Homo sapiens: one gene and its partners. The protein of the gene in region 2 purifies or fractionates together with the protein of the main gene of each other region. This does not show direct contact. Each region holds a gene or a part of one and is shown on either strand. Other genes may lie near its edges. The genes, in order: ZMYM1, TMEM74, RRP12, SPECC1, CHST7, YEATS2 and MIS18BP1.

What was found.
Region 1: the proteins of TMEM74 (region 2) and ZMYM1 purify together in Homo sapiens (affinity purification with mass spectrometry; one large-scale study listed by BioGRID and IntAct). This does not show direct contact.
Region 3: the proteins of TMEM74 (region 2) and RRP12 purify together in Homo sapiens (affinity purification with mass spectrometry; one large-scale study listed by BioGRID and IntAct). This does not show direct contact.
Region 4: the proteins of TMEM74 (region 2) and SPECC1 purify together in Homo sapiens (co-immunoprecipitation; 2 studies listed by BioGRID and IntAct, with this or other methods). This does not show direct contact.
Region 5: the proteins of TMEM74 (region 2) and CHST7 purify together in Homo sapiens (affinity purification with mass spectrometry; one large-scale study listed by BioGRID and IntAct). This does not show direct contact.
Region 6: the proteins of TMEM74 (region 2) and YEATS2 purify together in Homo sapiens (co-immunoprecipitation; one large-scale study listed by IntAct). This does not show direct contact.
Region 7: the proteins of TMEM74 (region 2) and MIS18BP1 purify together in Homo sapiens (co-immunoprecipitation; 2 studies listed by BioGRID and IntAct, with this or other methods). This does not show direct contact.

What each region holds. Positions count from the first base shown.
Region 1 is NC_000001.11:35,103,119-35,107,401, reverse strand, and holds part of ZMYM1 (zinc finger MYM-type protein 1), read right to left. Parts: intron 3,108-4,283; coding exon 2,933-3,107; intron 2,846-2,932; coding exon 2,633-2,845; intron 1-2,632.
Region 2 is NC_000008.11:108,781,214-108,785,056, forward strand, and holds part of TMEM74 (transmembrane protein 74), read right to left. Parts: coding exon 2,968-3,843; 3' UTR 1-2,967. UniProt on the Homo sapiens protein: Plays an essential role in autophagy. TMEM74-induced autophagy may involve PI3K signal transduction.
Region 3 is NC_000010.11:97,394,372-97,398,654, forward strand, and holds part of RRP12 (RRP12-like protein), read right to left. Parts: intron 1,931-4,283; coding exon 1,847-1,930; intron 1-1,846.
Region 4 is NC_000017.11:20,204,315-20,208,597, reverse strand, and holds part of SPECC1 (cytospin-B), read right to left. Parts: intron 4,266-4,283; coding exon 2,686-4,265; coding exon of another isoform or gene 2,662-2,685; intron 1-2,661.
Region 5 is NC_000023.11:46,577,115-46,581,397, reverse strand, and holds part of CHST7 (carbohydrate sulfotransferase 7), read right to left. Parts: intron 1-4,283.
Region 6 is NC_000003.12:183,704,112-183,708,394, reverse strand, and holds part of YEATS2 (YEATS domain-containing protein 2), read right to left. Parts: intron 1-4,283. UniProt on the Homo sapiens protein: Chromatin reader component of the ATAC complex, a complex with histone acetyltransferase activity on histones H3 and H4. YEATS2 specifically recognizes and binds histone H3 crotonylated at 'Lys-27' (H3K27cr).
Region 7 is NC_000014.9:45,242,988-45,247,270, forward strand, and holds part of MIS18BP1 (mis18-binding protein 1), read right to left. Parts: coding exon 3,756-4,283; intron 1-3,755. UniProt on the Homo sapiens protein: Required for recruitment of CENPA to centromeres and normal chromosome segregation during mitosis.

The DNA of each region.
Region 1 (4,283 bases), on a different chromosome or scaffold from region 2:
CGCCTCCCGGGTTCATGCCATTCTCCTGCCTCAGCCTCCAGAGTAGCTGGGACTACAGGCGCCCGCCACCACACCCCGCTAATTTTTTTTTTTTTTTGTATTTTTAGTAACGATGGGGTTTCACCATGTTAGCCAGGATGGTCTCGATCTCCTGACCTCGTGATCCACCCGCCTCAGCCTCCCAAAGTGCTGGGATTACAGGCGTGACCCACCGTGCCCGGCATATAGGCTTTTAAAAACAGAACAAGGCCGGCCAGGCGCGGTGGCTCACACCTGTAATCCCAGCACTTTGGGAGGCCGAGGCGGGCGGATCACGAGGTCAGGAGATTGAGACCATCCTGGCTAACACGGTGAAACCCTGTCTCTACTAAAAATACAAAAAATTAGCCAGACGTGGTGGTGGGCACCTGTAGTCCCAGCTGCTCGCGAGGCTGAGATACGAGAATGGCGTGAACCCGCGAGGCGGAGCTTGCAGTGAGCTGAGATTGCGCCACTGCACTCCAGCCTGGGCGACAGAGCGAGACTCCGTCTCAAAAAACAAACAACAACAACAACAACAACAAAAAACAACCCAGAACAAGGCCTATTGAGTGTCAAAAAGAAAGAAAGAAAAAAAAAGGAATATTATTTCCTGCCTTTGGGAGAAGTCTTCTGTGCTTTCCGTTCTGGTCCCAAGGCAGGATACTCTCAAGATGGGGGCCATAGAAAAGATGTGAGTCACAAATGATCTATTTGAATTATGGCTTGTTTTGACTCCCATCTTCAACTGCTTTTTTTTTTTTTTTTTTTTTTTGAGACGGAGTCTCACTCTGTCGCCTAGGCTGGAGTGCAATGGTGCCATCTCGGCTCACTGCAACCTCCACCTCCCGGGTTCAAGAGATTTTCCTGCCTCAGCCTCCCAAGTAGTTGGGATTATAGGCGCCTGCCACCATGCCCAGCTAATTTTGGTATTCTTAGTAGAGGCGGGTTTTCGCCATGTTGGCCAGGCTGGTCTCCAACTCCTGACCTCAGGTGATCGGCCAGCCTCGGCCTCCCAAAGTGCTGGGATTATAGGCATCAGCCACTGCACCCGGCCAACTGCTTGTTTTTAAGGAAGTCTGTATAGGGATAGAGTTGGGTCTCAAAATATGATATGAACAAGCAACATATCTAAGAAGTCCCACCTCATCTCATTTGCTCTTTCTCTGCTCTCAGAAGCACCCACCCAGAGCTTGTCTATCAGAAATAGGGACAAATAATACTAATCTCACTGGATTATTTCCTCCTATGACTGACTCAGAGAAAGCATGTGATATTTTTTGTTTGTTTTTTTAAAGACAGGTTCTTGCTATGTTGCTCAGGCTGGTTCTGAACTCCTGGCTCAACTGAACCTCCCGCCTTGGTCTCCCAAAGTGCTGAGATAACAGGTGTAAGCCACCATGACTGTCCACATGTGACATTCTTGATTCATCTTTGCATTGTTTGGTGTAAGAGTTAAACACGTGGAATTAAAAACAAAAACATGGCTAGGCTCACATCTGTAATCCCAGCACCTTAGGAGACCAAGGCAGGAGGATCAGCTGAGTTCAGGAGTTGTAAGACAAGCTTGGGCAACATAGTAAGAGCTTGTCTCTACAAAAAAATTAAAAATTAGCCAGGTGTGGTGGTGTGTGCCTGTAGTTCCAGCTACTCGGGACGCTGAGGTGGGAGGATCACTTGAGCTAAGGAGGTCAAGGCTACAGTGAGCCATGATTGCCACTGCACTCCAAGCTGGCTGACAAAGACCTCGTCTCAAAAAAATCAAAATAAATAAAAAAAATAAATAGCTGGGCACAGTGGCTTACGCCTGTAATCCCAGTTCCTTGGGAGGCTGAGGCAGGAGAATTGCTTGAACCTGGGAGGCGGAGGTTGCAGTGAGCCAAGATTGTGCCACTGCACTCCAGCCTGGGCAAGACAGCGAGACTCCGTCTCAAAAAAAATAAATAAGGTCAGGTGTGGTGGTTCATGCCTGTAATCCCAGCACTTTGGGAGGCCAAGGCAGGTGGATCACGAGGTCAGGAGATTGAGACCATCCTGGCTAACACAGTGAAACCCCATCTCTACTTAAAATACAAAAAATTAGCCAGGCGTGGTGGTGGCGGGTGCTTGTAGTCCCAGCTACTTGGGAGGCCGAGGCAGGAGAATGGCATGAACCCGCGAGGCAGAACTTGCAGTGAGCCGAGATCGCGCCACCGCACTCCAGCCTGGGTGACAGAGGAAGACTCCATCTCACCAAAAAAAAAAAAAAAAAAAAAAAGAAAGAAATAAAATAAATACATAAAAATAAAAACAAAAATACTTTTGTGTTTGGGTTTTATTGACCAGCAGACTATTGTTATTTTTGCTATACTTATTTCTAGTTTATAAACCGGCTCCAGCCTGCCTGCCTTTTCTTTAAGGTGAGATAATCGATCTGAGATTATTTAGGAAAATCTCCATATAGCATTTATCATGAATTCTTATGCAAGAAGAAACCGTTAAAAGCCTTCTATTTCATCTTCATCAACTTATCGACATTATTCCAAAGGGTACCAAAAACTACTTCCCACATTTTCCTAGAGTGAAACCATTCATAGGCCAGTTAATAGAAGAAACAATAGGTCTTTATTCATACCTGCTTATATGCTGTAATACTCTTTGAACTATTAAAGTAATGAGACTGTCCTTCCATCTGAAGTATGTGGGACAGACTAGAGCTGGTGTAACAGTAAGTGCCACAGTTCTCACAGCAGTTCATGATGAAGTTGTTAGCAGAGTGAAACTTTGAAAGGCAGGCATTACTGCAAAGATTATGTTTCACATTTTGGTATTTTACTTCATACTGAATCTAGGATTTAATAAAAAGATTCAGTAAAAACTCTGATATTTAAGCAGAATCATCAGAATCCCTGTAAAGGTTATAATTGGAACTTACAATAGCAGTCTTCTGGCACATGCTGCACTTGGTCAAAATGCTATTAGTACATATGGTAACAAATGGTTTTCTTTTTTCTTCATATGATGAAAGACAAGATAGGCTGCAAAAAGTTTTGCAAGAGGTAGTGTCTTCCAGCTGGACACTAATCACATCCTTTGGATTTAAAATGTCTCTAAGAATAAATAACAAGGACATCATTAAACAGTTTAAACACAATTATAACTTCTCTTTATAAATGAAATGACCTCTCAAATTAGAGTAAGAACATTAGCCTTGAAATAAGAAAACCTGAATTTGGTACCCAGTTCTGTCACATTTATACTCCCTAAATTTTAATTTTCTCATCTATACATTACAGATTATAAAGCACATCTAATAGTGCAGTTTTGTTTTTTAAGAGATAGGGTCTTGCTGTGTTGCCCAAGCTGGCCTCAAATTCCTGGGCTCAAGAGATTCTCCCACCTCAATCTCCCACATAGCTAGGATTACAGGCACATAATCCCACCATGCCTGACTTTGAAGATGTAGTTTTGGAGACTAGCCAGCCTGTATTATTAGGTGGTGCTAGTGAAAACCGAGGGATGATGAGAGATCACATATTCACATGAGCAACTCTAGAATCTATAGGACAGAGAATCTTAAAATATGGTCTTCAAATCCCTGGGGGAGTCCCCAAGATCAAAACTATTTTCATAGTAAGATGTTATTTGCTTTTTCACCGTGTTGATGTTTGCAACATCACTTTGCAACTGATGTTGCAAAGCTAATGGTAGGACCCTGCAATCCCACTCCTTGGTAAACACCCAAAAAAACTGAAAACAGGTACTCAAACAAGCACATGTACGTGCATATTCATAACAGCACTATTCACAATGGTCAAAAGATGAAAACAGCCCAAATGTTCATCAGTAAGTGAATGAATGAATAAGCACATTGTGTTACATACATACAGTGGAATATTATTCGCCTATTAACAAAAAGAATAAAGTACTGATACATGTTACAACATGGACAAACCTTGAAAATATTATGCTAAGGGAAAGAACCAGACACAAAAAGTCACTGCACTCTAGCCTGAGCAACAGAGTAATAATACCCTGTCACAAAAAGGTCATATATGATTCCATTTACATGAGATATTCAGGATAGATAAAATCTATAGATATAATGCATACTGGTGGTTGACAGGCACTGGGGGGAGAGGGAAATTAGGAGAAACTGCTTAGTGTTTAAGGTGTTTTACTTTGAAGTGATGGAAATGTTTTGGAACAAGATAGAGGGGATGGTCACACAACATTATGAATATACTAAATGCCAATGAAATGGTTAATTTCTTGGTATACAAATT
Region 2 (3,843 bases):
ACTTTCACAGGTAACAACCAGCACCATATTGAAGAGACAGACGGAAGGTCACAAATCTCCATGAAGGATGCAAGACCAAAACTATAGGTATTGTATGCCCAATGTCTATAGAATGCATCACCTGGTCTTGCCAAAGTACCTCTAGAGCCAAAAACACTCTTTGTCAGATTGGGAAAAACAGGAAATAAAGCACATGGCTTTTCTTTGCCTGTGTTACCATCATTTTAAATTCAAGTAATCTTCATATTGAATTCAGGCAGGATGGATAAGGGCTACATAAACCAAATACCCAGGGAAAAGTCGATTAAGGCAAGTATCTGAATAATGTCACCACAGCCCAAAAGAAGTCATTCAGATGATTTTCAAAATCATGTAATGTGTAATGGTTTGCCCTCAGATAAGTAGAACCTTAAAAGAGAGGTGCTCTATATGTTAGCAGATTTAAATAATGTTGAAGTGTGCATTTACTTACCACATTTCGATTTTAAATTTTAAAGGAAATTATAGCATTCTAGGGAAAAGAAAGGAAATGTATTTTGATGTGTTAGGTCTTTTTCTCCCCCGTTGAATATTTTTTTTCCAAAATGGCATTTTTCAAAATGTTACCTCTAGATCAAATCTATATTATTTGGTAGCCCTGCAAGATTCATTAAATGCTTCCACATGAAAAGCTTTATTATCAAGTGAAAAGACCTCCTAACACTTGATTCCCAAACTCCTCTTCCTTCATAAACTGAAAATTGATTCCACATTAATTCAGTTTAGTCTGCCATTTGGCTAATTAATCCTGTTTCACCAATAAATAAAAACTCAGTTGATCTCATTTAGCTTCTATGAATAAACATTAGTTTTTTCTTTAATGCCTTCTTTTTTTTAATGCCTTCTTTTTTTAACACACAGCTCAGACCTACTCACTCAGCAGATCGTTTCCTTCTTGTTTCAACATCATCCAAAGTGGATCCTTAAGCAGGCTAGAGCTGGACTTAGAAACCTTCAGAATATAAAACTTATACCACTGGTAAGGCAGCCTCAACAAAAATCATGAAATGAGAGTCACAGTAAAACAAAGTTTGTTCAAAAAGCACAAAAATACAGCAACAGAAAGCAAAAATCATGTTTATGTCATCTCAATTCTTTCTTTTCAGTAATCAGTATTGCTCTATAACATAAGGCAATTAACTACATCTAGCTTCCTCTGATGGCCATATAATTTCTCATTTTTACTTAATAATTCTTTCATATGCCCATCCTCTCTTTTTACTATCTTCTGAGCCTCCCTTTTTGTATTTCAGTTCAACCCTTAAGTCATATGCAGCATACCTCACTCATCAAATCAATCTGACACCCATGAGAGCTCATCCACATAAATATCCTGATTCACACATTTTGCCAAAGTCACCCATGTATTCCACAGTTGTCCACAACACCACAAACTTCAGACATTTGAAATAGCCTTTAAAAATCTGCAAAGAAATCACTTTCTTACTTCCTCATTCCTGCTGTCTCATACCAATTCCCAGCTCCTGTCCTCTTTTTAAGAATGACCCCCTGATCCTGGTAACACAATCATGGAAGTTACAACAACTCTTAGAGCACAGGTTGGAAAAACCTCCAGGCAGAGTTGCAAAATGTAAGGTATTTCTGAGGCTGCATTTCCCATCCCTTTTCTGAACCGTCACCATAATGAGGCGGTCTGTCACTGTGAACACCCAGTGTGTGTCTTGCAAAGTGAGCACCTTGCTCATCATGCTGCTCTTAGAGAAGAGTTTGTGCTGCATGAGGCAAGAGTTCACAGTTGCTGAATGACATCTAGACCACTGTGAGTGGGAGGTGAGTTCTGACGATGACTACAGTCCCCATTAAATCAGTGTATTGAATCTCTCTTTCCATTTTATTTTTTTTTGGCTTTGGGCTTAAGGACTGTTGCTACCATGAGGGAAGTGCTCGTTGCTTGGCCTACAGCAAGTGATACAGCCTGCGAGGCACAGTCCCCAAAAGTCTAGCTGCAATTCTATTGGTGGTTTTCCCCAAACAGCAATAACAAGATGTTACCTGGAAGCACACCAGAGCCAATCATGACTCAGGCCTGTCTAGATGTTTAGATGTCTGGAAATATATTTAAAATGTCTCATGCCTTGCCTCTTGCTGCTGGTGTGAGAACCAGCAGACTTCAAGAGCACAGATAACCAGTATGATGGCAAAATCACAAAATATAAAACTTATATCAGTAACTAATTTGACTTCATTTTAAAAAAGAGCCTGTGACCCTGGCTAATATCTGGCACCAACACTGTGGTTTAAATTCACATTGGTCTTACAATGATTTACATAATTTTTTTTTATTAGAAAGTTTATCCTAATGACTTAATTACCATTTTTGAAAACAGGAATAATTTCAAACATAACATTTTTTACAATAAGGAAAGCCCAACATCCTCAAACTTCAAAATATTCAAACTAAAAATTCCATGTTTTAGTGTTTAGCCAAATTACAAGAAGGATAATTTAGCAAGAAAATGGATAAGCACCTTTGAGAATTAGATGTAAGCCTTATTATTGATTAGTGCTTAGTTCTTTTTCACAAAGTAGATTAGCAATTGATCCTACTGTGTGTAGGACCACCTAGTGTCCAAAGAATAACATCATATATTTGTGTAAAAGAAATAATTTGTAGACTGGGTCATTAGAAATATTTTTCTATCGAAGTAGAAGTTCTTGGCCATTACAGATTAATTAGCCTTCAGCTCTTCAGAAGGATAGGTGTGGCTGGTTGTGGTTTCTTATACATCTTACATGGCTTTTCTTCTAAATAGAAGACACATAGAGAACAAAAACACTTACTGGCTGTTGGTTTGTGAAATAAACTTTTCTTGCCAGGCAAATAAATTGCACTGTGAATTTTTATAAATTAACTTTTTTCATATTATAAAATGCCAAGGCAGACTCTCAAGATATTCACAACCAGAATTAACTCTGTACAGCAAGCGCATCTTCCTCTACCAAGGACAGTTCCAGAGTGTTTTCATTCGTGCTGGTTTTCATCCTGAAGTTGAAAGAACCATAGAGTTTTGCAGACTCTTTGGAAGAGGCAAATCTGTTTCGACGATAGAGCTCCCCCTTCCACATGGACATCATTAACAAGCAGGACAGGATGACGCCCCCCAGCGTGAGGAGGCAGAGCCCCGCAATCACACAGCGGTCCAGGTGAGCCCCCAGCCTCGCACTCTCCTTCTCCAGGCGCTCCATCTCCCGGGCTGCCACAGTGTTGGGGTCCACAGTCACTTCCCGTGGGACGATGTAAGAGATGATCACGAGCAGGATCCCAGTGACCAAGAACAAGATGGCGCTGATGAAACCATAGTCTATAGACTTCCCTGAAGACGTGGCTTCTGAACTTGTATCATCCTCCTCTTCAGATATCAAAGATATGGCAGCCTCTTGGGACCACTCATTTGGATTTTCCCAGCCAAGCTCCCCAGGGTGATTATGCCCTTTTGCTGATGGCGAGCTCCGGTTCCGCTGCTCCAAGTTGATGTTTTTGTCCACATAGGTAAAAGAAGTTTCTAATTCCTGGCTGCAGCAGTTACAGACTTTCCGTTCCGCTGTTATTTGGTTGTTCCCTGAGTGGAGAAGTCCTGGTGGAAAGGCATCTGGCTGAAGAGTACTGTTTTGCAGAGAGGAGGAGGGGGATGCTGGAGAAGAACTAAGTTTAGACCCTTCCATCTCGGTTGCTCTTGGGGTGGATGCACACTGTTTCTGACAGCAGAGAGCAGCTCTTGTGGCTGCTGTATCTGCCTGGTCACCAGGCAGCCCTCTTGAACTCCAGTCCCTGGCATCACAGAG
Region 3 (4,283 bases), on a different chromosome or scaffold from region 2:
TGTTTATGTGCATATATATACAGAGATAGATAGATAGTTTTTTTGAGAGACAGGGTCTCCCAGGTTGGAGTGCAGTGGTATAATCATAGCTCACTGTAACCTTGAACTTCAAAGCTCAAGAGATCCTCCCACATCAACTTCCCAAGCAGCTAGAACTACAGGCATGCGCCACAAAGCTTGGCTAATTATTTTATTTTTTGTAGAGACAGGGTCCCACTATATTGCACAGGCTGGTGTCGAACTCCTAGCCTCAAGCACTCCTCCGATCTTGGCCTCCCAAAGTCCTAGGATTAAAGGCGTGAGCCACCACACCCAGCCAAACACCATATACTGCCATCTAATTTATTTCATTATTCTAGAGCAGAGGTTGGCAAACTTTTTCTACGAAGGACCAGATAGTAAATATTTTCGGCTTTGCATGCACACTTGGTCTCTGTTGTATGTTCTTTTTGTGTGTGTTTTAACAATTCTTTAAAAATGTAATAACCAGGCTGGGCATGGTGGCTCATGCCTGTAATCCCAGCACTTTGGGAGGCCAAAGTGGGAGAACTGATTCAGCTCAGGAGCTCAAGACAAGCTTGGGCGACATGACGAAACTCTGTCTCTACTAAAAATACAAAAATTAGCTGGGCATGGTGGCAGGCGCCTGTAATTCCAACTACTCAGGAGGCTAAGGCACGATCATCACTTGAACACAGGAGGTGGAGGTTGCAGTGAGCCATGATCACACCACTGCACTCCAGCCTGGGCAACAAAGTGAGACCCTGTCTCCAAAACAAAACAAACAACAACAAAAAAACCCAAAAACAAAATAAAAAGTATATATATACACATATACACACACACACACACATACATACATACACAAATATATTTATTTATTTAATGTAATAAGTAGGCCAGCCATGGTGGCTCACACCTGTAATTCCAGCACTTTGGGAGGCTGAGGTAGGGGGGATCACCTGAGGTTGCGAGTTCGAGACCAGCCGGGCCAACATGGTGAAACCCTGTCTCTACTAAAAATACAAAAATCAGCCAGGTGTGGTGGCGCACGCCTGTAATCCCAGGTACTCAGGAGGCTGAGGCATGAGAATTGCTTGATACCATGAGACAGAGGTTGCAGTGAACTGGGATCGTGCCACTGCAGTCCAACTTGGGCAACGGAGTGAGACTCTGTTTCAAAAAAAAAAAAAAGTAGACCAGGCCTGGTGGCTCAGGCCTATAATCCCAGCACTTTGGGAGGCTGAGGCAGGCAGATCACGAGGTCAGGAGTTCGAGACAAGTCTGGCCAACATAGTAAAACCTCTTCTCTACTAAAAAATACAAAAAATAAGCCGGGTATGGTGGTGTGCACCTGTAATCCCAGCTACTCGGGAGGCTGAGGCAGGAGAATCACATGAACCCAGGAGGCAGAGGTTGCAATAAGTTGAGAACATGCCATTGCACTCCAGCCTGGGCGACAGTGTGAGACTCCGCCTCAAAAAAAAAAAAAAAAAAAGTAATAAGTAGCCAGTTGCAGTGGCTCATGCCTGTAATCCCAACAATTTGGGAGGCCACCGCAAGATGACAAGACGGTTTGAGCCCAGGAATTTGAAACCAGCCTGGACAACATAGTGAGACCCTGTCTCTTTAAAAAAAAGAAACAAAGAAAGAAAGAAAAGAAAAGAGAAAATTAAAAGGTAGCAAATACCACCAGCCTTCCTAAGCCACCTGAGAATAACTGAAGCACTTTCACCTGGTCAAGGTTGTCCTTCTCTACCCCCACATGCCAGGGGCACTCATCTTCTCGCTAAATCTTGCATAACCTGCTGCTCTGAACACCCACCCTCCAGTGGCACCCACTCACCAGAGCAGCGAAGTACTCAGTCTCCGTCTCCTTCCCTCCCTGGGAGCGAATCACCTCAGTGACAGCAGCCAGAACAGCACAGATCTGCACAGGAGGGAGAAAGCACTGTGACTATTTTAGACCTAACCCCACCCCAGGGGAACCTCCTTTCCTTGCTCCTTCACAGATTAATCTCTGGTTAAAGCCCAGAGACAGACAAGACAGGCAACATTCAGGGCCTAGGTCCATACCAGGGGGCCCAGCAAATAACAAGACTCAGAAAATGCTTGCTAAAATTCCACCATGAGGTACTAACCTTCTAGAAATACCTGCATGAGATGAGTGTGCAAATATTTATGTACAAGGATGTTCATGGCAGCAACAAATTGGAATGGTCAAGAAGCCATCAACAGGAGATTAATAATGTACTGTAGTTGTCTCTAATGTACTGCAGTTATCGAGGGGGGGATTGGTTCCAGGACCCCTAAAGATACCAAAATCCGAGGATGCTCAGGTCCCTTATAAAAAATGGTGTAGTATTTGTGTATAACCTATATACATCTTCCCATATACTTTATTTATTTTTTTTGAGATAGAGTCTCACTGTTAGCTAGGCAAGAGTGCAGTGGCATGATCTCAGCTCACTGCAACCTCTGCCTCTGGGTTCAAGCAATTCTCCTGCCTCAGCCTCCCAAGTAGCTGGGATTACAGGTGTGCACCACCATGCCCAGCTAATTTCTGTATTTTTAGTAGAGATGGGGTTTTACCATGTTGACCAAGCTGGTTTTGAACTCCTGGCCTCAAGTGATCTGCCCTCCTTAGCCTCCCAAAGTGCTGAGATTACAGGCATAAGCCACCATGCCTGGCCTCCCATATACTTTAAATCATCTCTAGATTACTGGTAACACCTAACACAATGTAAATGCTATATAAATAGTTGTTATACTGTATTTTTGTTGTTGTTGTTGTTGTTGTTGTTTTTGAGACAGAGTCTCACTCTGTCACCCAGGGTGGAATGCAGTGGCGCACTCTCTGCTAACCGCAGCTTCCACCTCCCGGGTTCAAGCGATTCTCCTGCCTCAGCCTCCTGAGTAGCTGGGATTACAGGCATGTGCCACTACGCTAGGCTAATTTTTTGTACTTTTAGTAGGGATGGAGTTTCACCATGCTGGCCAGGTTGGTTTTGAACTTCTGACCTCAAGTGATCTGCCCGCCTCGGCCTCCCAAAGTGCTAGGATTACAGGCGTGAGCCACCTCGCCTGGTATATTATTATTATTTTAAAAAGATTTTTCAATCCATGCTTGGTTGAATCTGCAGGTGCAGAACCCGCAAATATAGAGACCTGACTGTATCATTATATAATAATGAAAAATTTAAATAGTGCATTATTCAAAAGAATGAGAACAACTATATATTAACTTATAAATATCGTTCAGTAGGGAAAAAGTTGCAGAACAGTGGATAAAAAATAAACTAATCAAGCAGGGCACAATGGCTCACACCAGTAATCCCAACACTTTGGGAGGCTCAGGTGGGCAGATCCCTTGAGCCCAGGAGTTCAAGACCAATCTGGGCAATATGGCAAACCCCATCTCTACAAAAAATACAAAAATTAGCTTGGTATGGTAGCACTCCCCTGTAGTCCCAGCTACTTGGGAATTGGAAGGCTGATCAGCCACTGCACTCTAACCTGGGTGACAAAGTGAGACTCTGTCTGAAAAAAAAGAAAAGAAAAGAAAAGAAACTAATCACATTTTGGTAAACCTAAATAACAAAATTGGGTAAAAAAAAATACGTATATATATATACATATATATATATATATGTATATATATATACGTATTTTTTTTTTTTTTTTTTTTTTTTTTGAGATGGAGTCTCGCTCTGTTGCCCAGGCCGGACTGCGGACTGCAGTGGCGCAATCTCGGCTCACTGCAAGCTCCGCTTCCCGGGTTCACGCCATTCTCCTGCCTCAGCCTCCCGAGTAGCTGGGACTACAGGCGCCCGCCACCGCGCCCGGCTAATTTTTTGTATTTTTAGTAGAGACGGGGTTTCACCTTGTTAGCCAGGATGGTCTCGATCTCCTGACCTCATGATCCACCCGCCTCGGCCTCCCAAAGTGCTGGGATTACAGGCGTGAGCCACCGCGCCCGGCCTTTTTTTTTTTTTTTTTTGAGACAGAGTCTCGTTCTGTCACCCAGGCTGAAGCGCAGTGGTGCGATCTTGGGTCGCTGCAACCTCTGCCTCCAGGGTTCAAGTGATTCTCGTGCCTCAGCTTCCCAAGTAGCTGGGATTACAGGCGCATGCCACCATGCCAGGCTAATTTTTTAGTAGAGATGGGTTTTCACCATGTTGGCCAGGCTGGTCTCAAACTCTTGACCTCAAATGATCTGCCCACCTCGGCCTCCCAAAGTGCTAGGATTACAGGTGTAAGCCACTATGTCCAGCCTGAAAATT
Region 4 (4,283 bases), on a different chromosome or scaffold from region 2:
TCAAGAGGACCCAGTCCAGCATGTTAGACCCTTCATCATAGTTTTGTGCTAAAACTTCTCCTGTTATCCTTTGGACATGAGTCTCTTAAGTATTATCATTTAAATTCATGGTTGTTGGCAGATTACTTGATAGTCTGTGGTAGAGATACAATCAGTATTAGTCCATTTAGGAGGTCTATGTTTTGCTTTTTCTACAGTAATGTAAAAGGGTAGGAAGATTAGTATGTTACAAGTCCACTGCAATTACAAATCAGTCTCTGTGCACATAAGACAGCACAAAATCACAAACCTAGGGTCTTGATAGATATACAAGAAACCCTATGTGATAGCATGCCCCCATCTTTACCTCAAACTCTCACCTAAAAATACTAGCTAGGACCTTTCCCTTCTTACTATCAGTATTTGATACTTCTAGTTAGCATGCAGTAAGATGTAGGATACATGAATAATAACAGTTTGATTTTAAACATATATGTTGTGCCTTGCACTCTACAGAAAATGCACACTTTCCTTTAAATTACATTTAGTTTATTCCAGAAGATTCCAGATTTTATTGCCTCTATTTACCAAAGCTATAACTTTAAATGCTTTCATTATCAACCAAGGATAAAAAAAAGTTAAATGAACAAAGAATTTTAGTCAAGAAACCAAAATGTACAAAAAATAAGACAAAAAAATTAATAAAGATAAAAGTAGAAACAAGTTAATCAGAAACAGATTAATAGTGGAATAGATAAACTAATCCAACTGATTCTTTGTAATGGAATGTGGACAGACATACTCTACTCTTCTGGATAGGAAGACAAAATATCATAATCATATCAATGCAAGTTTTTATGCATGCTCAAACATGTATAAACTGAGAAAAGGCCTGAAAGGACATACAGCAAAAGGTTAGCAGTTTTTCTCCAAGTGGTGAAATTAAAGGTAATACTTTTCTTTTTTATACTTTTCTGTACTTTTTAAATCGTCTGTAATAAAAATATTTTATGATCAGAAAAAAATAAGCTATTTTTAAGATGTCAAATTATTTCTCACTGATATGCACATTTAATGTAATGCCAAACTACCAAAAACACAGAGGGACTGATAAAGAACTTCAAGAAGGTGCACATGGGAGATAAAACATTTTGCCAGAGAGTAGTGAGTAATCTTAAAGTAAAAAAAGAATAATCTTACTCCACAAGATATTAAAACCCAATGCCAAGCCTGACTAGTAACCTCTAATGGAATTACTTCCGTACTTTCAATAAAATACCTACAAATTTAGAATACAGACAAAGAGAGAAACTCCTTAACATGACCCACCACTAAGCTCATCAGATGGCCAAATTGCAGAATCAGGCTGCAACAGACTCATCTTAAGACAGACGAAGCAGTGGAGAAAAATCTCCCTGAGAGCTCATGGCATAATTTGCTCCTTGAAACAATGACAACCCCTAAACTAAGGTAGGAAGATGTTTTGAATCTCTCTTGCCAGTAGATCCCTAAATCAGACCCAGAACTTGGAGGGAACAAGAAATAGGAGGCCATCTCTCTGCACCTCTCCAGCACTGCTCTGGGAGGTGGGCAGAATATCATAAAATCACCACAATTCTTGCATCAAAAACAAAATTACAGGCTGATTAAAGTGTTGAGAAAAGTTATTTGCTCTTGGGCTATGGAAGATCTTCCCAAGCAAAAAAGGTTAAAAAAATGAAATGATTAACAGATTTAAATGATATAACAATGTAATACCAAGTGCTGGCAAAGGCTCAGGAAAGCTCATGATCTCATGACCGCTAGGATGAATAAACTGGCATAATATTTCTGAAGGGCAATCTGGCTGAATGTGTTGAAAGTCTTTAAAATGTTTATACTCTTTGACTCGGTAAGTCATCGTCTAGGAATTTTTCCTAAATAAACAGTAAGATAGATATAAAAAAGTATTTATAATATTGAAAGACTGGAAAGACCACAAATGTTTGACAATACATGTATGTTCAACAACAGGGTAAATATGAAATATTTATATTAAAATAGTATCTGGCCTTTAAAATAATGTTTAAATGAATATTTAATGATAGGAATATGCTGAGAAAAGTTTTAATATTTCTAAAATGTCAAATGCAAAAAAAGTTAATAACATGTACAGGATGATTATAAATTTGTGTAACTTGTATGATACACATACACACACATATATCTGGAAGAAAACACCAAAATAGTGGTAATATTTTAGTTGAAAATTGGGAGTGATTTCATTTTCTGTTACTGGCAGCTAAAAGCATGCTGACAGACTGGCAAACTCCCACTCAATCTTCAGAACTCAGCTCAGTTGCTATTTCTTCCAGGAAGTCCTTCTGTGCTACGCCCAACCCCCACGTTACACCAGATGCCCCTCCTTTGCACTAGACTAGAGCCTGGGCATAGGCTGTATGATATTCTTTTATCACTGCATCATACTCTGATTTGACTCTACATCCCCACATTTTGAACCGCCCATAATCAGAAATTTGGGTGTTTCCTTTTTGTATCCCCCAATCCCAACCTGTGTGCAATCTAACAGGCCTTCAAGCTGGAATGCTGGCTTCGTGAATGAAACAGACTAAGCAAATGCTTCTCTGTGCTCTGTGAATTTAGAGGTTAAGGGCAGAAATGTGAACAAGGATGAGCAAATACCAGTAAAGAGCTGTCTCTTCTCACCTTGGCCAGCAGACTGGAAACATGTTTAATTTCACCGTTTGCCTTTAGTAATTCTTGTCTGAGCTCATTGCAAGACAGTTCCAGTAGATCTTTCTCTGCTCGGGCTACTTTCAACATTTCTTGAACTTCGCAGCTCTCTGCCGTCTGCTCCACAGCACTGGCCTCTGTGGCTTTCTGCTTCTCACCCTGCAAATGAGACTTCAAAGATCCATTCTCCATTTTTAGCCCTTCCAAGGTAACTCTACACTCTTCCAAAGTTTTGGCCATCATGTTATTATTATGCCGTTCCAGTTCTAGAAACTCATTCAGTTTTTCATTTTCTTCCTTCAGACGTTTAATCATTTCTAAAGCTCCTTGGTTTTCTTCCTCAACCTTCCGCAAGCTACAGGTCAACTGCTGCTGAATGTTGAGTAGCTTCTCTCTTTCAAAGCGGCCCTGTTCAAGAATACCTGTGCACTTCTGCTCCAGTTCAATAATTTTTCCTTCCTGAGTGGTGGGCTCTTCATTCTTTACTCGCTCTTGTAAAAGATTCATCAGCTTCTCATTTTCTTGACTTAGCTGCTCTGCCCTCTCTCGATGCTGATGAAAGGATGTCTCTAAAATCGTCTTTTCATCCACCAGCTTCTCATTTTCAGCTGTCAATTCCTGTACCATTTGTTGCTGGTCTGATAATTCTTGTAGAGTAGCCTGTAGTTCTTCTGCAGTGCTATGGTGGTTTTCTTCCATCTTTTGTATCTTCTCTGTGAGGGAAGCCAGGGACAATTCACTTACGCTGTTTGGGGAACTCCCAGCAGTAGAACACTTTGAACTCTTAAAGGGGTTACTGGTGGAGGACAGGGGCCTTGAGGGTGTCTCTGCTGTAATGTGCTCAAAGTCGGAAGCATCTGGCGACAAAGAAGCTTTGGTAACATCGCTACTTGAGGAGCCTGATGTCCGTAATGCATTTCCATGTATGTTTTTTTTATACTCATCAATGTCACTGGACATCTGATTTCCAGTTGGGCTTCCGAAGCTTGACTCTTGAGTTATGGATGTTGGGCAGCTGCTGTCGCCAGTGTGACTTGCTGCCCCTTCTGAATTTGGGGAGTGCTCAAGATAGATCAGTTTCTCCTTCAGGACCCGGTTTTCTTCCTCTAGATCGGAAAGCTCTTTCTGAAAGTTCTTGTTCTTCTCCTCAAGAGCTCTTATCATAGGTTCCGTGTCACCTGGGGAGACTGATGTTCCATCGACATTTGGGCCCAAAGCATCAGTCCCCTCAGCGTTCAGAGTCCTTTTCTCTTTGTATTTCTTTAGTTCACTTCGAAGCCTGTTAATTTCACTATCTTTTGCTTTGGCTTCTGCCAAAAGTTCCCGAACTTGGGACTCAAGCGCAGCCTTTTCTCCACCTTCATTCTCTTGCTTGGGCTTTGTGGAAGGGGTCCTCAGGTGTTTCGTAGGAGTGGGAGTGTTGGAAGAAGTTGGACTGGACACTGATTTCCTGGGGTTGGAGGGACCACGTGGCACAGACCTCTCTCTTGAGACAGTTACTGAAAATTCCCGTGGGGCTGGAATGCCTGTCCGTTTAGTTGTTGTAAAGGCCCCTTAAAGACAGAAGAAGA
Region 5 (4,283 bases), on a different chromosome or scaffold from region 2:
TTTTAGTAGAGACAGGGTTTCACCATGTTGGTCAGGCTGGTCTCGAACTCCTGACCTTGTGGTCCACCTGCCTCGGCCTACCAAAGTGCTGGGATTACAGGCATGAGCCACTGCACCTGGCCCTTATTTAATTATTATTATTATTATTTTTTTTTTTTTTTTGGAGACAGAGTCTGGCTCTATCACCCAGGCTGGAGTGCAATGGTGCAATCTCAGCTCACTTCAACCTTTGCCTCCAGGGTTCAAGTGATTCTTCTGCCTCAGCCTCCCGCGTAGCTGGGACTACAGGTGCCCGCCACCATGCCCAGCTAATTTTTGTATTTTTAGTAGAGATGGGGTTTCACTATGTTGGTCAGGCTGATCTCGAACTCCTGACCTCAAGTGATCCGCCCGCCTCAGCTTCCCAAAGTGCTGAGATTACAGGCATGGGCCACTACGCCTGGCCCAGAAATCCTTTTAATTTGACTTCCTCTTCTTATTGGTAAGAACACTAAAGCTGAAAAGGTTTAGGGACTTGCCAAAGGTCAATTAAGTAGTAACCAGGAGAGGCAGGCCCTGATGCCTGGGTTCCCATGCCGTAATTCAAAAACTGACTTCATATAGAAAGCAAGGAATGACTGTTACTACTTTATGTCCACCCCTTGCTTTGTAGGACCAGCCTCCTTCCCTGTTCACTCATCAGACTTGACAAGTCTTGACTTTTCCTTAACACCGTATCCATCAGCTGAGGGGTCCTGCCAGGGAAGGCAGGCCCAAATGGGAGCTCCGAGTGCCTTGATCAAAGGTAGCATTAACCTCACAAGGAGCAATAATGATTTGGACATGGATGTATTTTTAAAAATTGTTCACACCTCATTGCAGCCCTGCTACTCAGGTACCTATCCATGTGCACACACACATGCGCACACACACACCATCCTAACTTCCAGCTCTCTGGCTCAAACCTAGCACCCAGGTTGATATGCTATTAGGAGTCTGAAGATAATTTTGTTGAATGAGAAATTCTATATAGGAGCAATGTTTCAAAAATGTCCATTCTGGGCTGGGCACGGTAGCTCACGCCTGTAATCCCAGCGCTTTGGGAGGCCGAGGCGGGTGGATCACGAGGTCAAGAGATCAAGACCATCCTGGCCAACATGGTGAAACCCCGTCTTTACTAAAAATACAAAAAAATTAGCTGGGCATGGTGGCACACACCTGTAGTCCCAGCTACTGGGGAGGCTGAGGCAGGAGAATTGCTTGAACCTGGGAGGCAGAGGTTGCAGTGAGCCGAGATCGCACCACTGCACTCCAGCTTGGCAACAGAGCAAGACTCCATCTCAAAAAAAAAAAAAAAAAATGCCCATTCTTTAGCAGTCTGTGTGTAAGCAACAGCTTCACTTTTCAGTGATATTTATTTATCTTTTGAGACAGGGTCTCTCTCTATCATCCAGACTAGAGCGCAGTGGCGTGATCACAGCTCATTGCAGCCTCGACTTCTTGGGCTCAAGCGATCCTCCTACCTCACCCTCTCAAGTAGCTGGGACTACAGATGCGCGCCACTACCCTCAGCTAGTTTAAAAAAAAATTGTAAAGATGGTGGGGGTTGTCTCACTATGTTGCCTAAGCTGGTCTTGAACTCCTGACCTCAAGCGATCTTCCTGCCTCAGCCTCCCAAAGTGCTGGGATTATAGGTGTGAGCTACTGCACCCGGCCTCAGTGATATTTATACATAAGCCTATATAAAATGTTTGTGGCCCAGTTTCCTGATTAAAATAGATTTTCAAAATGATTTGGTGGTGGTTGATCATTTCTTTTCCTGTTTACATGATTTCTTTAGAAAGAAAGCTTCCTGATTGTTAGGGTTCAAATTACAGGGTGTTTGCCTTCTTTCCTAATTTCTTTCAAAGGATGCATATGTCATGTCAAGAGCAAAGATCAAGGTGCCTTAAATGCCTAGCGGGATGAAACTTTGGGACCTACCAAGGGCAGACATTAAAGGGAGACATGCTGAAAAGGACAGGATAGCACATCAGTCTGTCCAGAACAGTGGTGGATAGTGTACAATGATGGATTATTAGATAATTAGATAATGAGCTACAGACAACAAAGCATGTGAAGGCATGTGAGAGGGTGATAAATGGACCCATGTATAATTGAGGACATTTTCCCCTTTCCATAATAACACTCTACATCTGCTTGGCACTTCATAGCTCCAAGTTCTTTCACATAAATTACTGTGGCAAGCAGTTCAGTGCTCATCAACAGCCCTTTATTCCCCATCCTGATCTTGTTCCGGTGGCAGCCTTCTGGTCCCATCTGGCCCAGGGGATGAACCATGACTGGTCTGAGCCAGAGGTTCTCAGCTTTGGCTATACAGTAGGATCATCTGGGGAGCTTTTCAAACATCCCAGTGCCTGAGTCTGGGGACTCCACTCCAGACTACTTAAATCAGAATCTCTGGGGGTGGAGCTCAGGCATTGGCATTAAAAAAATAAATAAAAAAGCTCCTCATGTAAATGTAATGTTCAGCCAGGGCTGAGAACCGCTGGTCTAAGCCAATCACAATGCTCCCATTCCCTTTCACCAATGATTGGGCTAGGGCAGGCTGTATAACCCAGTTTTAGCTAATGAGACATAAAGGGACGTCGGCTGGTAAAGGGGGTTCTGGGAAAGGTGTTATAATTTATTAAGGCTGGGTGCAGTGATTCACATCCATAATCCCAGCACTTTGAGAGGCCGAGGCAGGCAGATAGCTTGAGCTCAGGAGTACGAGACTAACCTGGGCAACACAGTGAGAGCCCCCACTCCCCGCCCATCCCCAATCTTTGCAAAAAAAAAATTTCTTTTAATGAGATTGAGTGGTGGTGTGCACCTGTAGTCCCAGCTACTTGGGAGGCTGAGGTGGGAGGATTGCTTAACCCTGGGAAGTTGAGGCTGCAGTGAGCCATGACATTGCACTCCAGCCTGGGTGAAAGATTGGATGTGGTGGTACGCACCTGTGGGCCCAGATGCTTGGGAGGCTGAGGTGGGAGGATCACTTGAGCCTGGGAGGAGGAAATTGCAGTGAGCCAAGATTACACCACTGTACTCCAGCCTGGGTGACAGAGTAAGAGCTGCCACTCAAAAAAAAAAAAAAAAAAAAAAAAGAGCATGGCAGGAGGAAAAACCCCTCCACCCCTTACTGGCTAGATAGCTTCCTTCCTTTCTGTATTTTAATAACCCTGTGTCGTTGTGTGAAGATGTTTTGCTTGGAGCTGTGGCTACCATCTTGTTACAGTGGGAAGATAAGCCAGTGAATGAAAGCCAAGATGTAAAAGATAGAAAGGGCCTAGGTCCTTGGTGACTTGGTTCAGGGTGCTACGGCCCCTACCCAGACCAGAAAAAACTTCACTGACTCCCTCACTGCCAAATCCTGGCCATTGGGTATGGACCATCCAGAAGTTACTCAGGTTAATTCACATGTGGCCTCTCTCCTCAGTTGAGCTGAGGGCACCCTGAGATGCCCTGTGGGGAGGATGGCTGTAAAGTTGTCGGCTTTCCTGTGTAGGCACTGTCGGCAGCTCAGGGATATTTTATTTGTTCAGTGGTTGGGACATATTAGTAATAAAGCTGAGTGTGTTTTCCACCTCATACTAGCCTAGCTGGAGTATCAGGGTGCTGCCAGGGAATGCCAAGGCAGGGGCCAGGTGAGGTATAAAAGAGAGGATTATGAGCTCTGGAGTCTAACACCAAACACTGTTCCACCCTCACCAGCCCAGGTATGACTTTGGGCAAATTACTTCTCTGAGTCTCGGATTCCTCATCTGGAAAACTGGTATAAATAATGATATATGTACAATGCCTAACTCAGTGCATGACACATAGCCCTTCAGTAAGGATCCCTCCCCCTCTCTTCTCCTCCCTTCTCTAGAATAGAGTGTGACAAACTTTTGGAAAACCCATCAGTGAGTCGGCAGTAACGTTATCTTCCTAGGAACCAAGAATACAAGCACTGTAATCAACCCACTGATTGGTGGTAAGTGCCCAATGCGGGAGGAAGGACTCAGTCACTAAAGTCTGGAAGAGCCTAAAGCTTGCTCCCAGATGTCCCTGCAGCCCTGCAAAGGAAGCCCCATCGGCCTTCCAAACAGCAACACCAGTGTCTTCCCTCACAGTCACTGTCACCCACACAGACTCTAACCTCCTAGAGGGCAAAGACTGTCCTCTACCCTCCTCTCTATTCTCTTTAATGCTTCACCCCAGCCAGTACTCAAATAGATGTTAGTAAAAATGAAAAAAAAAAAAAAAAAAAAGCAAAAGTT
Region 6 (4,283 bases), on a different chromosome or scaffold from region 2:
CAAACACATCATATAAGATGTGGCCAACAACATGGTGAAACCCCATCTCTACTAAAAATACAAAAATTAGCTGGATGTGGTGGCGAGTGCCTGTAGTCCCAGCTACTCGGGAGGCTGAGTCAGGAGAACTGCTTGAACCCAGGAGGCAGAGGTTGCAGTGAGCCGAGATCGTGCCACTGCACTCCAGCCTGGTGACAGAGCAAGACTCCGTATCAAAAAAAAAAAAAAAAAAAAGTGGCCAATTCTTGAGGAGAAAGGAGTAAAATCTGATAAATTAGACACTTGAAAGATTTGCCATATATCATATGAGGTATCATCTCAATAATTCTATGTGCCTCACATCATTTGAATATCAGAACCACTGAACTTGGGGCTCTCACTCAAGACTTCCCATCTGGTTTAAAGTTGGGGAGGGGGACGCCGGGCATGCTGGCTGCTCACGCCTATAATCTCAGCACTTTGGGAGGCCAAGGCGGGTGGATCACGAGGTCAGGAGTTCGAGACCGGCCTCATCAACACGGTGAAACCCCGTCTCTACCAAAAATACAAAAAATTAGCTGGGCATGGTGGCATGCACTGTTATCCCAGCTACTCAGGGCAGGAGAATTGCTTGAACCCGGGAGGCAGAGGTTGCAGTGATCCGAGATTGCGCCACTGCACTCCAGCCTGGGTGACAGAGTGAGACTTCGTCTCAAAAAAAAAAAAAAAAAAAAAAATAGGTGGGGAAGGGGAGTAGTACAATCATTTTCTATCTGCTTCCATACAGACAGGCATTCCTAAGATGCTGATAATGATTTCATAGTTCCTGGCCCTGTCCTTTCTACAGTCTTAAAAGAAAATACATTCTCTTTTGTAAACAAGACAACCAGTGTTCCTTTATTAAATATCTGAATAAGACTCTACAATCCATTTTCCATTAGCCAATGACATTTCAAAAATGTCTCAAAAGTCCAAACCAGAGGAATGGACGAACAAATCGTGGTATACTCAATGAACTCTTGATGCAGGCAACAACAGAAATGAACCTCAAAATCATTATGGCAAGCCAAAGAAGGCAAACACAAGAGTACAAGCTAAATTATCCCACTTAAGTTCTAGAAGAGACAAATTAATCTATAGTGAAAGAAATGAGAATCATAGTTGGAGGTGCTGGTGTTAGGGACTGACTGGGAAGAGGAATGAAGACTTTTTTCTTAGAAATATTTTATTCAGGTTGAGTATTCCTTACCCAAGATGCCTGGGACCAGAACTGTTTCAGATTTCATACTGTTTTGGATTTTGGAATATTTGCATATACATAGTAAGATATCTTTGGGAAGGAACCCAAATCTAAACATGAAATTCATTTACGCTTCATAAATATCTTACACACAGAGCCTGAAGGTAATTTTATACAACATTTTAAATAATTCAAAACATAACACAAAGTTTTGACTATGTTTTAACTGACCAGTCACAAGGTCAGGTGTGAAATTTTCCACTGTGGCATCATGTTGGTGCTTAAGAAGTTTCAGATTTTGGAGCATTTAAGATTCAGATTTTTGGATTACCAATGCTCCACCTAACTTTTTTTTTTTTGAGACAGAGTTTCGCTCTTGTTGTCCAGGCTGGAGTGCAATGGCACAATCTCAGCTCGCGGCAACCTCCGCCTCCCGGGTTCAAGCGATTCTCCTGCCTCAGCCTCCTGGGTAGCTGGGATTACAAGTATGCGCCACCGCGCCGGGCTAATTTTGTATTTTTAGTAGAGACGGGGTTTCTCCATGTTGGTCATGCTGGTCTCGAACTCCCGATCTCAGGTGATCTGCCCGTCTTGGCCTCCCACAGTGCTCCACTAATCTTAATAAGAGTGTAGGTTAGATGGGTATGTATATCCAATTGCAAAAACACCCAACTGTACACGCAAAATCTGTATTTCACTGTCTGTAAACTATACCTCACTTTAGAAAAGGACAATAAGAATATTTTTCTGATCATGTCATCCCCTGCTTGAATCCTTCAAATAGCTTTTCATAACATTTAGAACAAATTTCCATTCCTTAACATGACCTAAGAGATGTGAACTGCGCCCTGTCTCCCTCTCCATCCTTAATCTTTAAGATCCAGACAGGTTGGTTTTCTATCCCTCAAATATACTCCCAATTTTCCTTTGAGCTTTTGGAATCATGGCTCCTTCTATCTGGAATGCTCTTTTCTTAGGTTAGCTTAATCAGATTCCAGCTGAAATCTCCCCCTTATCAGGGGCCTTCCTTGACCGTGCCCCATCCAACACAGCTCTCCCTACCTTCTCCCTCCAAAGTTCCTGGAAGTGCTCAATATTACTATCTGGAAAAATAAATGAAGGATTTTTTTTTTTTTTTTGAAACAGTCTTGCTCTGTCACCCAGGATGGAGTGCAGTGGTGCGATCTTGGCTCACTACAAGCTCCGCCTCCCGGGTCAGGCCATTCTCCTGCCTCAGCCTCCCGAGTAGCTGGGACTACAGGCGCCCGCCACCATGCCTGGCTAATTTTTTTGCATTTTTACTAAAGATGGAGTTCCACCATGTTAGCCAGGATGGTCTCGATCTCCTCAACTCGTGATCTGCCTGCCCCGGCCTCCCAAAGTGCTGGGATTAGAGGCGTGAGCCACTGCGCCCAGCCATAAATGAAGGATTAACTAAAATATCTGCCAAAATATAAATGACCACAGGGAACATAACTACTACCTTACATTAGTTTTCATCATTAATCTATTTGTTGATATTGCTACATCTTTAAAGGCTCTTTAGCTAAATGTTTAAAAGAATGTACAAAGTTATTATACACAGACACATGCAAACAAAAAGACAGTAAGCAAGGCAATATTAATAATAGAATTCAAGGCAAAAAAAATAACATGATAAAGATGATGTTATTAAAGGCACAATCACAAAAATACATCTTAAACTATACATCCAACAATATAGTATCAAAATACATACAACAAACAGAAAAAGGAAAGTTTAAGAAATCACACATCTCTATATAAAATTTAAAAGATTAAGACAATTTATAAAAATACAGATGATAGGCCGGGCGTGGTGGCTCACGCTTGTAATCCCAGCAGTTTGGGAAGTTGAGGCAGGTGACTCGCTTGAGCTCAGGAGTTCAAGACCACCCTGGGCAACACAGTGAAACCCTGTCTCTACAAACAATACAAAAATTAGTTAGGAGTAGTGGCAAGCACCTGTACTCCCAGCTACTTGGGCAGCTGAGGTAGGAGGATTGCTTGAGCCCAGGAGATGGAGCCTGCAGTTAAGCTGAGATCGCGCCGTTGCACCTCCAGCCTGGGTGACAGAGCCAGACCCCGTCTCAAACAAAACAAACACAACAAACAAAAAAGATGATATAGATATATATCTGGTAATTAACAAGCCAGAATTAACAAATACACACAACTCTGAACCCAACAGAAAAAAATCTTTTAAAAATATCTATAAAAGTTCATTAAGGTCGGATGCAGTGGCTCATGCCTGTAATCCCAGCATTTTGGGAGTCCAAGGTGGGTGGATCACTTGAGGACAGGAGTTTGAAACTAGCCTGGCCAATGTGGTAAAACCCCGTCTCTACTAAAAATACAAAAATTAGCTGGGCATAGTTGTGGATACCTGTAATCCCAGCTACTTGGGAGGCTGAGGCAGGAGAACTGCTGAACCCAGGAAGTGGAGGTTGCAGTGAGCCGAAATCACGCCACTGCACTCCAGCCTGGGCAACAGAGTGAGACTCTGTCTCAAAAAAAAAAAAGTTCATAAAATGTAAATCATACAGTAAGATATGAAGAAAGTCTCAAATTACTGCAAAATGTAGAAATATTACAGCCACATTCTGATCTTAATAAAAATTAATATTAGCTCACCATGATATGGAAAATAAGACACTCTTCTAATAACTCATGACTCAAAGAAGAAATTAAAACTAAAGTAACAGACTATTTAAAAACTAACGAGAACACAGTATCTCCAAACCTATGGAAATGTGGTCAAAAGTCACCATCAGAGGAAAATGGCAAACAAGCTTTCACTGCAAATACACATACAAATCCAATCCAGCAGGGTATTAAAAGCATAATGCATCATAACTGGAAAGTTTTATTGCCAGCAACAGAAAAAGAAACAAGCAGAACGAACAAAGGCTAAATCCTAAAACCAAAGTGGGGAGATCTAGAACGAAGGGGATTTGTACTACACAAGTCTACTGTTGAAGCTTTAGGAAGCTTTTTTTTTTTTTTTGAGATGGAGTCTCACTCTGTTGCCCAAGCTGGATTGCAG
Region 7 (4,283 bases), on a different chromosome or scaffold from region 2:
AGTATAGTACTTTTGCAATATATGACAGTTACATATATTTTTATATTTTTGGCTGTATTATCTTCTCATACCTTTACCCCATTCTCTATACCAACATTACGGTGAGGAAGAATTTTTTAAAACCTTCTCTGAACACAACCCGCCAGCTCTAGACAAAAGTATTGGACTTAGAAACCTAGAGATCTGAAATTCTGGTGCTGCCACAAATTGGATATGTATATGTTAAGATTACAATATAAAGTTTCACCCAGTCTTGAAAATTCCGATTCTGTTTCTGGTTGCTGTGAATTTCTAAAGCATGAAAGATAGTCGAAGAATTGTAACTTATTCTTTAAAAATTAAAATGTTGAGATGCAACAGCAGACTCAGCCATAATTTATATCCTTTAGACAATTTTTAGTAGGCCTTCAAATGCTCAGAAGTTGTAGGTTTCTCAACTAGATAAATAAGGACTAATAGCACTGCTTGCATCTTATTCTGCTTTACCTCCTAGATTTTTAAAGTTTAATGTTTCTCGAATGTAGTTTCTTTCACACAAAAAGGGGATGATAATAGACTTAAAATTTGAGCCTGAGAAGAATTATCTTATATGTTTAATTTTAAATTTTATACTTGAAAAAACTGGTAGTGACTATGCTTTAATAAGTATGCCACTTTGGTCTCAGAAATCTTAAGATAAAGATTTCATTATAACAACGTGTCACAAAAAGAAACAATAAGTTTCTATATCTTTAACTCATTCTACAAGAAATGGCAAGGCAATTCAGTAGTAATTCAATCAAATGCAATAAGTTATATTTATTCACTTATGTGGGAGTCCCAGGTTCATGTAGACTCTCTAAAAGGTTTCTAAAAGTATATACAAAATTTGTGTTTCTATTTGTGTTTATATTTTCTGGGGGAAAGGGTCACCAGATTCTCAAAATGGTCAGGTATTTCTTACTCTCAAATGCTACCTTATTATATTTAAAAACTTTAATATGTATTATTTCATTTGCTTCTTCCTTTTCTCCCAGGCTATATGAGAAATAGATGACTTTGTGAGTCTCCCCACTTCTACCCCCAAACTCCCTTAGAAAACTCTGTGTTAGAATATGTCACTGTCTTGGAAATGCAACAATATACCCACAACCTACTGTGTAGTGGTTAAGAACATGGGCTTTCTAACAGATACCTATATTCAGTTATCAGCTTATTACTTGCTACCTATGAGACATAGAGCAAGCGGACTTACACTCTTTACAATCCCCATTTATAGACCACTAATGGGCATCTACCCATGTGTTCGTTGAAAGGATTAAAAGAGATAATACATGTAAAATATCTTTCATTATCAGTGACTGAAACTCATTAAAATCTCAATTTTAATTGTTGTAGTGTCATCTTTCCAGATCATTCTCTCAAATCCAGTGACTATCCAAATAAAATATACACTTCACAATCCCTCATCTCCTTCAGATCCTTTGCCCTCATTAATCAGCTTAAATTTCATTATGACTCCTTCACACACACCCTCCTTTGTCCTTCTGTCACTTCATTCTATTTGGCAAAATTACAACCCAGTTAAATCCAACTCCCCCCAATTCTACACCAGCATCTTAGCAGCAAAACAGGGCTAAAGGAAAACTCACAGCCATATTTACTGGTTCCATTTTAAATTCATGTTCACAAATCTTAAACAGCTCTTCTGTGTTACCCAGGAAATCAAATTTAGGCCTCTCCCAAACTATTCAAATCTCTACCTCCTCAAACTTCAATACCTGTTTTCCATATTGCTCAGCTGATGACTTTACTTATTTCAAATTATTTGTGAAGTCATAAAATAATAATCCACCAACATCTGTGTAAACGGCTTTCTTTTCAGTTAACAATTGGTCTGTCTGTGTTCTGGTCAAACCGCTAATGATGCATTAGATTATATTTCCTCTCAACTACTGAAGGGCATCATACTAGCAACTTCAATTTTTTTTCTTCCTACTCCATTATTCCCAACAGCATATAAAAATGCTGTATTTCACCAAGTATTAAAAATGATAAAACTTTAAACTACAATTGCCATTATTTCTTTGCCAGCCTCAAAAAGAGCTGTCTATGTTCACTATTGCCAATTCCTCTTGTCACATTATCTCTTGAACCCTTTCACGCAATGTTTTCGTTGCTACCATTCCACCAAAGCTGCCCTCCATCAAAGTCACCAATGACCTTCACATTGCTAAAACGAGCAGTAGAATCTCAGCCTACTTGACCAATTAGGAGCATTAGACAGCTGTCAACTCCCACCTTAAAGTACTTCATTCTCTTGGCTTTCACAGTATCACTCTCCTGGTTTTTCTTCTTCCTCACAATCTTCTCAGTGGCCTTTCTACTCTTTTCTTTTTTATTTCTTTTTTTTTTGAGATGGAGTTTTGCTCTTGTTGCCCAGGCTGGAGTGCAATGGCGTGATCTCAGCTCACCACAACCTCTGCCTCCCGGGTTCAAGCAATTCTCCTGCCTTAGCCTCCCGAGTAGCTGGGATTACAAGCATGCGCCATCAAGCCCAGCTAATTTTGTATTTTTAGTACAGATGGGGTTTCTCCACATTGGTCAGGCTGGTCTTGAACCCCCGACCTCAGGTGATCCACTTGCCTCGGCCTCTCAAAGTGACGGGATTATGGGCATGAGCCACCGTGCCCGGCCGGCCTTTCTACTCTTTATTCTACCTTCCAAATGCTGGAGTACCCCAGGACCCAGCTCTTGAATGTTTTCTCTTTCTACACTTACTCCTTGATGACCTCATCTAATCTCATTGCTTTTAAAATACCATTTAGGTGCTAATGATTCCCCAATGTACTTTTCTCACCTTGATCACTTCTCTAAATTCCAACTAGTTTTTTCCAACACCCTAATACCTAAACTTAGATTTTTAATAGAGGTTATCAAAATTAACATAACAAAATCTTAGTTAATGAGCCCGCACTCCATTCCTCCTTCCGTCTGTCCTAGAGTCCAGCCATTTACCATCTGCACATTTACTATCTGCACTACTAACACCTGAACCAAGCCAACACCGGCTGTCATCTGGCTTACTGCAGTAACTCTATTTCAGAACAGCCAGAGTGACATTTTAAAAACATTGTCATTGTACACAGTGGTTAACTAAAAAACAACAAAAAAACCCTCATAAGTCAGATCTTGTCATTCACATGCTCAAAACCCTCCGATGGCTTATTCTGCTCACAGTAAAGGCCAAAACTCTTACATTTACCTACAAGGCCCTTATATTATCTGACCCACTCTTATTTATCCCTTCCTTCTGAGCTCTATCTACTCACTCCATGACACACTAACTTCATAGCTAGTCCTTCAACATGTCAGGCATGCTATTTCAAGGCGTTTATAACAGCTGCCTAGATCATCCTTCCCCATTCCTCAAGATACATGTATCTGTCATCTCATTCAATTTTGTGGGCTCAAATTCCCAAATTCAAATTACTGAAGATTACTCTGACCATCGCACTGAAAATTACATCCCCCTCCAACTCTTCCCATCATCCTAATTCTGCTTTTTCCTCTTTCCACTTTTCCTCTTCTACTAAGCCATAAAAATTACTTATTTAATATGTTAATTATGTCTTCCCACCATGTGAATATGAGCTACACAAGGGCAAGGATTTTTGTCCATTTTGTTCACTGCTATATTCTGAGCACCTAAAACAGTGTCTGAAACATTAAACACTTAAGACATTACAGCTTTTTAGCTAACACATAAAACTAACCTCTTAGTGAACTGTCATCTGACTGGAATGATTTGTTGTTTTCCTTTTCTTCACATAGGTAGGTATGCTGCAATTTTTTTTTTTCAACTCTGTTAGGAGTGAAGGTTTCATTATTTCCACTTTTCTGTGGTTCCAACAAACTACTGTTTCTTGATGGCTGTTCTTGCTTGTCACGCAGTACTTTTTCTTTCATTCTTAGAAATATTTTTCCTGGTGATTCATAGTTTGCTTTATTTTTTAATCCATCCTTGTTGGGCTTTATAGCACTGATATCAAGAGAACTGTTAGAGGTAGTAGCCTCTGTTAGCATAGTTGATTGAAATATATTTTTATTGTTAAAAGTTGTCATTTTTAGGAACTGATTCTTTTTATGGTCATTCAATTTTAAGGAGGAGTTCTGATATTTCACCAAATCTTTTACAGGAGTAAGTGTGCCTGAAGGAATGCTGTCAAAAAAGATTGCATCCATGGGTAGATTTCTCCTTTGAGAAGATGCCTCTGGAGGTAAGTAAATTCTTGAATGTTTCA